Regions from separate parts of the Homo sapiens genome. Here region 2 is linked to region 1. A link means that fine-mapping ties the variant in region 1 to the expression of a gene that starts in the linked region. Tissue or cell type: lung. Region 1 holds a variant in brackets; the other region holds the start of a gene. All regions are shown on one strand. Distances are from middle to middle.

What was found. PIP is the estimated chance that this variant, and not a neighbour inherited with it, causes the effect. A credible set is the group of variants that fine-mapping cannot tell apart.
Region 2: UNC93B1 starts here. The variant in region 1 is the best candidate, but not a certain one, in a credible set for the expression of UNC93B1 in lung (TOPMed, PIP 0.61).

What each region holds. Positions count from the first base shown.
Region 1 is chr11:67,922,077-67,928,277 of GRCh38, forward strand. The region is part of intron 3 of LOC112268076 (translation initiation factor IF-2-like); the gene reads right to left. It also overlaps the pseudogene RPS3AP40. Among named protein-coding and RNA genes, the nearest start is that of LINC02754, 41 kb to the left of the region's middle. The variant G/A (reference allele first, on the strand shown) is at 2,772.
Region 2 is chr11:68,002,247-68,006,329 of GRCh38, forward strand. It overlaps UNC93B1 (unc-93B1 regulator of TLR signaling), which reads right to left and starts at 1,851. Exons shown (of 11, transcript NM_030930.4): 1 at 1,702-1,851; 2 at 1,411-1,552; 3 at 776-929. The coding sequence starts at 1,797. RefSeq lists enhancers at 404-603, 704-753, 854-903, 1,808-2,351, 2,352-2,894 and silencers at 1,204-1,613, 1,674-1,973.

The DNA.
Region 1 (6,201 bases):
CTTTTTGCTGAAATAATGAAGATAATAATCAATAAAAACTGAGGGAAATCAGAGACTGGTGCCAGTGCAGGTCCTTGGTATGCTGAGCGCCGGTCCCCTGGGCTCACTGTTGTTTCTCTATACTTTGTGTCTTATTTCTTTTTTGTCTCTCATCCCACCTGACTAGAAATACCCACAGGTGTGGAGGGGCAGGCCACCCCTTCATTATGAGATTACAGGCAAGAATAACCCCACCTGGCCACCTAACTCACTCTTGAGAGGCCAGAAGTGATGCTGGAATTTTCTTCCTCTGTGGTTTAAAAAGGGAAAATTAGGGAGAACACAAGGCATGAGCGATGCAGCAATGGATATGTCTATATGGAGCTTCTGTCTGCATCCAGTAGAAAATGCATTTCTAGGCATCAGGTTTAAGAGCGAAAACCTGGAGTCTTGTCTGTTAGCATTCTCCTTCCCCACAAACCAGAGAGGGAATACATTTTGCTCCAGCACATCCGGATGTAGGAAATGTCACATTCCTATTTCTGTAACTTCACTTAAATCTGCTCTGAGTCCCTGGATGCCTGGCAGGTGGAGAATTCAATCTTGTCGTTACCAGCATTGCTTTCCCTTCTCCATGGGCTTATGTAAGAATTCTGGGCTTACACACTGTTGGAAAGCCAGGTAGGAACTACTTCCCCCGAACTCTCCATTCTTCCAGCTGCTCATGATCCATCAGCCTTTTTTGGGCCATCTGCTATAACAAGACCCTCCTCACAGCATCATTCCACTGACCCACAGGCTCAGCCCCAGGGACCCTCACTGTAACAGGTCTCCACTATGCATAGGAACTCACAAAAACCTTCTCTTCATCTTGGCTTCCTCTGATATCCAGCCACTCCCCTCTTCTCACCTTAAACACAGATGGCAGCTCCTTCCCATCATTCCAACCCTTGGGGATTGTCCAGCCAAATTCTCTTCAGACACCAAAGCTTCACCCACCCTCTTCATGGAGATGATGCAAGGGCATCTGAGATCTTTGGAAGCCCAATTCTGGCCTCTCTTTGGGGTGGGCTGAGAGTGGGAACTAGACTCTCTTTTCCAAGTGCCATGTTTATCTTGTTCATCATTATATTATCTCCAATGCCTGGCACATAGTAGGCACTACAGACTGACACATAGTAGGTGCTATTAGTGTCTGTATAATGGGACTCTTGAGGTCGAAGCTATTAGCAGAAACCTACCAAGCAAAAGGATGGAAAACCGACCACCAAAAAAAAAAAAAAAAAAAAAAAAAAATGAAAACAATCATGGCTTTGAGCTCTAAACACACAAGGCACCAGCCCAAGTTTGGGCAATTTTAATACAACAGCCATTTTGCCTCCAAACAAACTGGCACTGGAAACCTCCGTCTGCCTCTTAAAGAGAACCAGTTTCTCTTTCTCTAAGTGGGCAGCATTTCTCCCCGGTGACAGTACCCAGCCCACTGCCACCAGCAAAGGACTGCAGCCAGGAGCCAAGAGCTTGATAGTTTAAAGAATATATTTTATAGGGAAAAACAAAGTAACATCCACATAAATCTGGAAGTACCACCACTTTCCAGAGGCCGAATCCCATTTGTGGAGTCTCTTGCGTGTCAAGCACCTTGCAGTCACCTCAACTACATACTTTTGGGATTCGTTGCAGAGACGAGTGAAGGTTATCTGCAAAACAAAGGAACTAGGGCTCAGAATTCCCCGAGCAATCCATGACAGAGGAGGTGAGTAGAAAAGGGAAGGGTGAAGTCAAAGAGAGAATTCAGTGAATTGGCCAACACCAAGCAAGGATCATGGGACCCTCTCCATGGCTCCACGTCTCAAATGAAGTCAATAAAACCCATCAATGCTTGGTGTAAGTGTTGTATGCTCCCGGAAATGAAAGCAGGGGCCACATTTCAGGTCAGCAGGGTCGGGGGTAGAGGCAAAGGTCATGGACTTGTGGGCCCTGGAGGATGGGATGATTCTGAGACATTGAATCCCTACACTGATCTCAGTAGAAATCTCAGGTAGGGCTTCAACATTCGTGGCCCAAGGACTCTGTGTGCCTGAGAGCAAAAGCCTTGGTGCATGTCCCGGCTCCATCAATCCCAACTGGGGCTTTGAACAAGTTACTTATTTTTTTAACTAACGTTATTTTAATTGACAAATCATAATTGTACACATTTATGTGATGTTTTGATATGTGTATACAATGTGGGATGATTAGATCAAACTAATTAACATGTCCATCCACTAATTTACTGACAATTTTTATGATGAGACATTTGAAATGTAGTCTCTTAGTTATTTTGAAAGATACATTATTATTGACTATAGTCACGCTGCTGTGCTATAGATTTCAAAACACATAATCCAGCAACCCAACTTCTGGGTATAGACAAAAAAAAATCGAAATCAATATGTCGAAGGGATCCCTACATTCCTATGTTCACTGCAGCACTATTCACAATACCCAAGATATAGAATCAACCTAAGTGTCCATCAGTGGATGAAAGGATAAAGAAAATGTACTATATACACACAACGGAATACTATTAACTCTTAAAAAAGAAAGAAATCCTGTCATTTTCAACAACATAGATGAACTTGAAAGACATTGTGTTAAGTGAAATAAGCCAGGCACAGAAAGACAGATACTGCATGATTTTATTATATGTGGAATCTAAAGAAGTTGAACTCACAGAAATAGAGAGTAGGACAGTGGTTATCAGGGGCTGGGGTGGAGGAAAGGTAGGGGATAGGAGACACTGCTCAAAG[G/A]GTACAAAGTTTCCAATACGAAGAATAAGTTTTGAACAAGCTAAACTCCTCTGAAAGCTCAGTTCCTCATCTGTAGAGCGGGGACACATCATTAACCTTCTAAGGATGTTGCTGTGAGAGTAAGAGATGATGTTCAGCACAATACCTAATGCACAGTCAGGTCTTCTTAAGCTTGAACCTGCATCGCCATGACCTCTACATCACAGGACAGAAAGGCTCACAGCCAGTGTCTCAGTTCCCAGTGAAAAGTGGATCCCAGACCAGGCTGAATAGCAGGATCCCTAGGGGATACTCCACCCTACTGAGTCAGAATCACCGGAGGTAGAGCCTGGGTATGTATGTATGTGCGCGTGTGTGTGTATGTATGTATGCATGTATGTATGTATGTATGCATGTATGTATGTATAAGAGACAGGGTCTTGCTCTGTAGTCCAGGCTAGAGTGCAGTGTCACAATCATAGCTCACTGCAGCCTCAAATTACTCCTGGCCTCAAGCCATCCTCCCATCTCAGCCTTCAGAGTAGCTGAGACTAAAGGCGCATGCCACCAGCCCAGATACTTTTTTTTTCCTTCTTTTTGGAGAGAGTCTCACTCTGTTGCCCAGGCTGGAGTGCAATGGTGTAATCTTGGCTCACTGCAACATCTGTTCTCGGGTTCAAGTAATTCTCATGCCTCAGCCTCCGGAGTAGCTAGGATTACAGGCATGCACCACCACACCAGGCTAATTTTGCTCTTTCATTGTTGTTTCTTGATTGTTTTTCACAAATAGGACTTCTTATTTGCTACTGTTTTAAGCCTGAACTTTAAACAGATTCTTGGACTGGTGGTTCATATCCATCAGCTCATTCAACTTTAGCATGTGTCTCGTCCCTAGTGGGTTTTCCAGAACTACTACCATCACCACGAAGCTCCATGCCTTTCAAACCCAGGGTTCTCCAGCATTTTTATTTTTCTAATGAAGACATCATGGAGAGGATAAATTGGCAAGCCTTTTCTACATCTTTTCCAATGTTGTCTGGAATCAATTTATTAACCACTTCTTTCAAGTCATTTGTCTGCACCTCTCAGGTCATGATTTCCATCATCTTCTTCTGGATTTGGCAGACTGTTGGTGCTAAGCATAAGAGGTCTTCAGTATCAGATTGTTGTGTTTTTTAGTAAAACCAACACAAAACATAAGAAAGAAGTAACCATCGGTAGTCTTGACATCAACATGAGCTTCGATCATTGTTGAACATTTTTCAACCTTGGAACATATTTTGTCACAGGTAAGACCCATGCCATAGAAGTTAGTCAGGCAATTTTTGCCCTGAACATCTTCAGTAATCAGCTTGAATTTTCTAAATGCAACTTCATCATTCTGCAAATCTGCAAGACTCATTTCAAACACAAGACCCTTGAGACCATCAGATGCAATTTGGGTTCCTTGGGTCCTGGTGACCAAGTCTTTCCAATATTTCTTATATTGAACATAGCAGGTGCTTTCACATCATACTGATCTTTCTTAGAGAATGGACCAATTACTTTCTTCTTAACTCCCTTTTTGCCACCTTTCATAAGGCACTTGTTCTTAACAACCGCCATGGTGCTGCTCAGAGTACCAAAAGGCTAAATTTTATATTTTTGGTAGAGAAGGGGTTTCACCATGTTGGCCAAGCTGGTCTTGAACTGATATCAGGTGATCTGCCCGCCTCAGCCTCCCAAAGTGCTGGGATTACAGGTGTGAGCCACTGCACCCAGCTGATATTTATTTTTTATTTTTTTGTAGAGACAGGGTCTTGCCATGTTGCCAAGGCTGGCCTGGAACTCCTGGCCTCAAGCAATCCTCCCACCGCAGCCTCCCAAAGCACTGGGATTTCAGGTGTGAGCCACCGTGCCCAGCCTGGAATCTATTTTTAAAGCCAATCAAGTGTTGAATAAAATTGCAACTTGGGCTGTTTTTTCTTCGCATTTTTTACATTTCAATGGTTTTTAATATATTCAGAGATATACGCAAACATTACCAGTCAATTTTAGAACATTTCATGACCTCAAAAAGAAACCTCATACCCTTTAGCTAACACCCCCTATCCTCTCATGCCCCTAGCAGCCCTAAGCAACCACTAATCGACTTCCTATTTCTATAGATTTCCATCTGAATGAAATCATGTAGAATGTGATCTTTCATCTGTTTTGAAGGTTCATCCACGCTGTAGCGTATGTACTTTCCTTCCTTTTGTGATCAAATAATATTCCACCATGTGGGTAGACAACAACCGGTGTATCTCTTCATCTGGTGATGGGCATTTGGATTAATTCCCTCTGTGGGTTATTAGGAGTGATGCTATTGTAATTATTCATGCACAAATTTTTGTGTGGACCTGTGCTTTCATTTTTGAATATGAAAATATGGCACATCTCCAAGGAAGACATACAAGTGGCCAATAAGCACATGAAAAGATGCTCAATGAAATTCATCATCAGGGAAACAGAAATCAAAACCACAATGTGATACCACTTCATAGCCATAAGGATGGCTAGAATTGAAGATACAGAAAATTGGCCTGGTGTGGTGGCTAATGCCTGTAATCCCAGCACTTTGGGAGACCGAGGCAGGTGGATCACCTGAGGCCAGGAGTTTGAGACCAGCCTGGCCAACATGGTGGAACCCTGTCTCTACTAAAAAATACAAAAATTAGCCAAGCATGTGGCAGGTGACTATAATACCAGCTACTCTGGAGGCTGAGGCAGGAGAGTAACTTGAATCTGGGAGGCAGAGGTTGCAGTGAGCTGAGATTGTGCCACTGCACTCCTGCCTGGGTGACAGAACAAGACTTTGTCTCAAAAAAAAAAAATACAGAAAATAACAAGTGTTGGTGAGGATGCAGAGAAACTGGAACTTTCATACACTGCTGGTAGGAATTAGAATGCTTTAGCCACTGTGAGAAACAGTTTAACAACTTCCCAAACAATTCTACATAGAGCCCAACATGGGCTCTTTTAATCTATGGAAAATGAACTATGGGTACTTGGCAAGAACAAAGAGGGAGAGAGGAAGAAATGGTGCCATGAGGGCACATTGATTGGTCTCTAGTACACATGGCTCCTACTGCAAATGGTCTCTAAATGACTTCATCAGTTGCTCATAAAAAAAATCACCCTCTGCTCCAATCGTGGAGGAAGAAGTATGGATTGGACCTGGTGAGCCACGGTAAGACTGACTGCTAAACTTTATGAATGATGAGGGGATTTGCACGTATAATCTTGACTGTACTAGATTTTTTATTTTATCCACTGTCTTTGAAAACCTAACTCTTGACTAAGAACTGACTTTCCTGTACTTGCTTTTGACTCTAAGTAAATTTCCAATTCCTCATAGTCCAAAGATGATGTTTTGAGAAATCTCTCAAAGGAAAAATGCTAATACAGGAAGAGTTATGCGGCAAATTTT
Region 2 (4,083 bases), 79 kb after region 1:
GGACAAGGATGTGAATGTAATCCATGCATGCTGGTGGGACAGCATGGGTAGCCGATTTCCTGGAGGGCTTAGATGGGGTTTCTTTTTTATGATTTCAGTTATTCTAATCCTGCCTGTGCAACGGGAGATGTTTTAAATTTTCAAATTTTTGTTTAAATGGAGTTTTCTCTTGTTGTTTTGTTTGTTTGTTTGTTTTAAAGATGAGGGAGCTCAAATTCACCTAATTTGTCCACTGGTCTCCAGGTCCCATCAGGGAGGGCACTGTGGACCGGTGATGGGGAGGCTGAACCACATACCTCCAGGGCTCAGATCTGGGGGAGAGCTCTGGGGCACCTGCCCAGCCATGCCTGTCTGTGAGAAACACCCCCTCAGCACCAGTCACAGCGACTGGGCCAGGCATGGGTGCCTGGACTTTGCTGACCGATCAGAAACCCCTAACTCTACAGCCCCAACCCTGAAGGCCACAGTGGCTCTGGGAGGCCTCCAAGGAGGCCACGAGGAGGGTGCCACGTGAGGCCCAGGCAAGCTGGGAGGGAGCTCAGCCCGTGTGAATCTGTTGCTGGAAACCAAATGTGCCCTGAGGCAAAGTTCCTGTTTCCTTCCCCAAATCCGAGTTTCACCCCCTTCACTCTCAGGCTTCCGGGTAGAAAAAAACCTCTCCCTTGTTCCCTCGCCCCACAAACACCCCGGCAGATGGACACCTCCTGGCCCGCCGGCCTCTGTACCCCTCCGAAATGGGAGTACCGCAGCATCCCACAGGAGCAGCCGCGCCCACCTGATGAGCACAGGTGTGTAGAGCAGGGCGGCGATGGGAGTCACGTTGATGCCCATCAGCATTTTGCTGTCGATGTCGGGCAGCCCCATGTTGCCATACTTCACCTCGCGGTAGGTCTCGTCGTAGTGCAGGATCAGCTGCATCTGCAGGAGGCCTGGGGACAGGACAGAGAGCGGCGTGCAGGGAGCAGCCTAGCTTTGGGCGCCACCGAGCAGAAGACGGCATGCAGGCCTCGCAGGGAGCTCCAATCACCGAAGGCATTCCCGCTGACAGCGCCCCTCAGGACAGCGGGGTTCCCGGGCTGCGCCACGCCTTCTGCCAGCCCGCGGCCACTTGGCCAGCTAAGCCCAGACCCCCACCCGCCTTGCTCCGCCGGCCTCCAATTCTGACGGTGGCAGGTCTGTCCGGGAGCCCGGACCCCCGTCCCCCACCCACACCGAGGCTCTGGCTGGGACCCGGGGACGCTGCGCTACTTGACCCCCCAACCCCACCCCCGCCGCGGGGGGCCGTGGCTGCAGCTGCGAGGGCAGCGGAGGGGAAGTGAGAGCGGGCGGGAGGCGGCGGCCCGCGGTTTCTGTTTCCCGGGCCGGGCTGGGAGCGGGCGGGGCGGCCCCGGGTCCCCGAGCGGCACCTACCCAGGTAGACGCCGTAGGTGAGCATGCCCCCGGCGCTGGCAGCCAGCACGTTCTTGAGCACGCCCAGGCGCTTGCGGCGGTAGTAGCGGCGCTCCTCCTCCTCCTCGTTGTAGTTGGGGTACGCGCCCACCAGCTCGTCCAGCTGCGAGCCACGCACGCCGCTCGCACCCGCGATCGCGCCCCGAACCCGTGTCCCCCGGTGCCCGCCGCCCCCCGGCCCGCCCCGCCCCCGCCGGGGGGACCCTGGCCCACAGGGGACGCCCGCGCCTCGCACTCCGGGTCCCCGCTCACCGGGGCCTCGGGCCCGTCCGGGACCCCGAGCAGGTCCTCGTCGCCCTGCGGCCCCGCAGCCCCCGCCATCGGGTAGAGCGGCGGCTCCGCCTCCATGGCCCGAACTACTGCGGACTCGCGGCGGTCGCCCCGGAGTCCCTGCGACCGCCCGGCCACTTCCTCCCGGCGGCCGGGACCTGCCCCCGCCCCGCCCTGTCCCGCCCTGCGGGCCGCCTCCTCCAGGACACGTGTGTGTGTATGTGTGTGTGCGCGCGCGCGCGCGCGTGTGTGCAGGGGCCTGCCTGTGTGTGCCCTCTGGGGTGTGAGTTCGAATCCCCACTCAGCCACCTCCTGGCCCTGTGACTTTAGGAATTAACTCCATTTCTTTGTGCCTCGGTTTCCTCCGTTTCCTCGACGGTAAAACAGAAATACATGGCACTACCCCCGGGGCCATGGCGGAACTATTGAGTTAATGCAAAGCCTTGGAAAAGTGCCAGGGTTGCCTGGCTCCCTTAAGCTCCCCTCAGGGTTGCCTGGGTCGTCCCCAGCCCCACCTCCAAGCCTGCTGTTACAGCTCATCAAAGAGCACTGCAGGGACAGTAGCGTCACCACCTGGACCCCACCTCCCACCACCGGACGCTACAGCCAGAGCCCACCTCCCATGTCCCCATCCTGCTCCAGTTTGGGCTGTGCAAATGGGAGCTTGAGTGGGTCCTGGGAGGTGGAGATTGTGATCCCCACTGAACTACATGGGGGACCCTGCCACAACCATGTAGTGGGGCCCAGAGCCACCTGCCCCCATCCTGCTGGGCACTGGATCCCGGGCTGCAGCGGGAGCCTGTGGTGGGGCCGACACTCCAAAGCACTGGCTACCACCGACCTGGCTGGAGCCACGGGGCCACTTTTGAAAATATCCAGATTCTCTCCCCTGGGTTCCTTCTGGTTTGAATGCTCTTCCTGCTGCGCCTCCCAGGTGGCTTCCTTCCCACTCAGCTCTCAGAACAAGAGACCATCCCTGCAGAGAATGCAGTCCCTTCACTTCCCTTCTGGTTTTCCATGCCCTCCCTGTGCACCCCCCTCCACCCACTGCTCTTTAGGTACATCCTCTCCCAAATGCAGAGGATGGCATTGGGCACCTACTGAGTGATCAATACTTGTGACTGGATGGGTGCATGAGTGACTGGATGACAAACACCTCCCACCCCGCAAGGATTGCTGGGAAGGTGGGGGGAGGCGTGAATCTGCAGTGGCTTCAGGCTTCCAGGAGGTAGAACTTTCTCCAGGTGACGATGCCCAAGTGCAGATGTGGGGAACAGACAGGTGGATTCATGCAGGTGGGTGGCTGGAAGTGGGAGACAGGAAAGGAGCCGAAGAGAGGGCAGGGCCCGAGGCGCAGGGGCAGGGAGGAGGTGGGAGAGTATGGCTATGGCGGGGGCCGTTCTCAGATGGCAGACACCAGCATCATTACACAGTATGATGAGAAAGTGCAATTCTCCTGACTCAGCCTTGTGAGTAGCTGGAATTACAGGCGTGTGCCCCTACACCCAGCTGATTTTTGTATTTTTAGTAGAGATGGGGTTTCACCATATTGGCCCAGGCTGGTCTCGAACTCCTGACCTCAAGTGATGTACCCGCCTTAGCCCCCAAAGTGCTGGGAGTGGGCCCCCCGAGCTTCTCAATTTCCCTGAGGGACCCCAAACTTCTGGGGCCTGGTGCAATCTCTTCCTCCCCTTGTTCCTCTGGGCCTGGGGGTTGTGGCGGTTGCTATGGTTGCCCATCCTGGGCTCTTCCATCACCTGTGCTGTACCACCAATTCCCTGCACTCAATGTCTCCTACTCAAAACACCTGGAGAGGGTCGGGCGCTGTGGCTCACGCCTGCAATCCCAGCACTTTGGCTGGCCAAGGAGGATCACTTGAGCTCAGGAGTTCAAGACCAGCCTCAACAAAGTGAGACAAACCCCCCCCCCCAACCCATCTCTACAAAAAATACAAAAACTAGCCTGGTGTGATGGTGGACACCTGTAGCCCCAGCTACTCAGGAGGCTGAGGTGGGAGAATTGCTTGAGCCCAGGAGGATGAGGCTGCAGTGAGCTGAGATTGTGCCACTGCATTCCAGCGTGGGTGACAGAGTGAGACCTCTCAAACAAACAAACAAACAAAAAACAAAAAAAACAAAAAACAGCCCTGGAGGCACTAAACCCTGACTGATACACCTCCTCTCTCCAGAAAGGATTTTTTTTTTTAGGTGGTTTATGGAGCTGCTCTTGGGGAGCCTGGAGACTATCTAAGAGGCTGATAGGGTGGCCCAGATAAACACACCAGGGTGACCTGCGGGACAGAGATCTGAGCAGGGCCAGCACCTCCACCAACCCATCCAGGTTGCAACAGTGCACAGTCACATC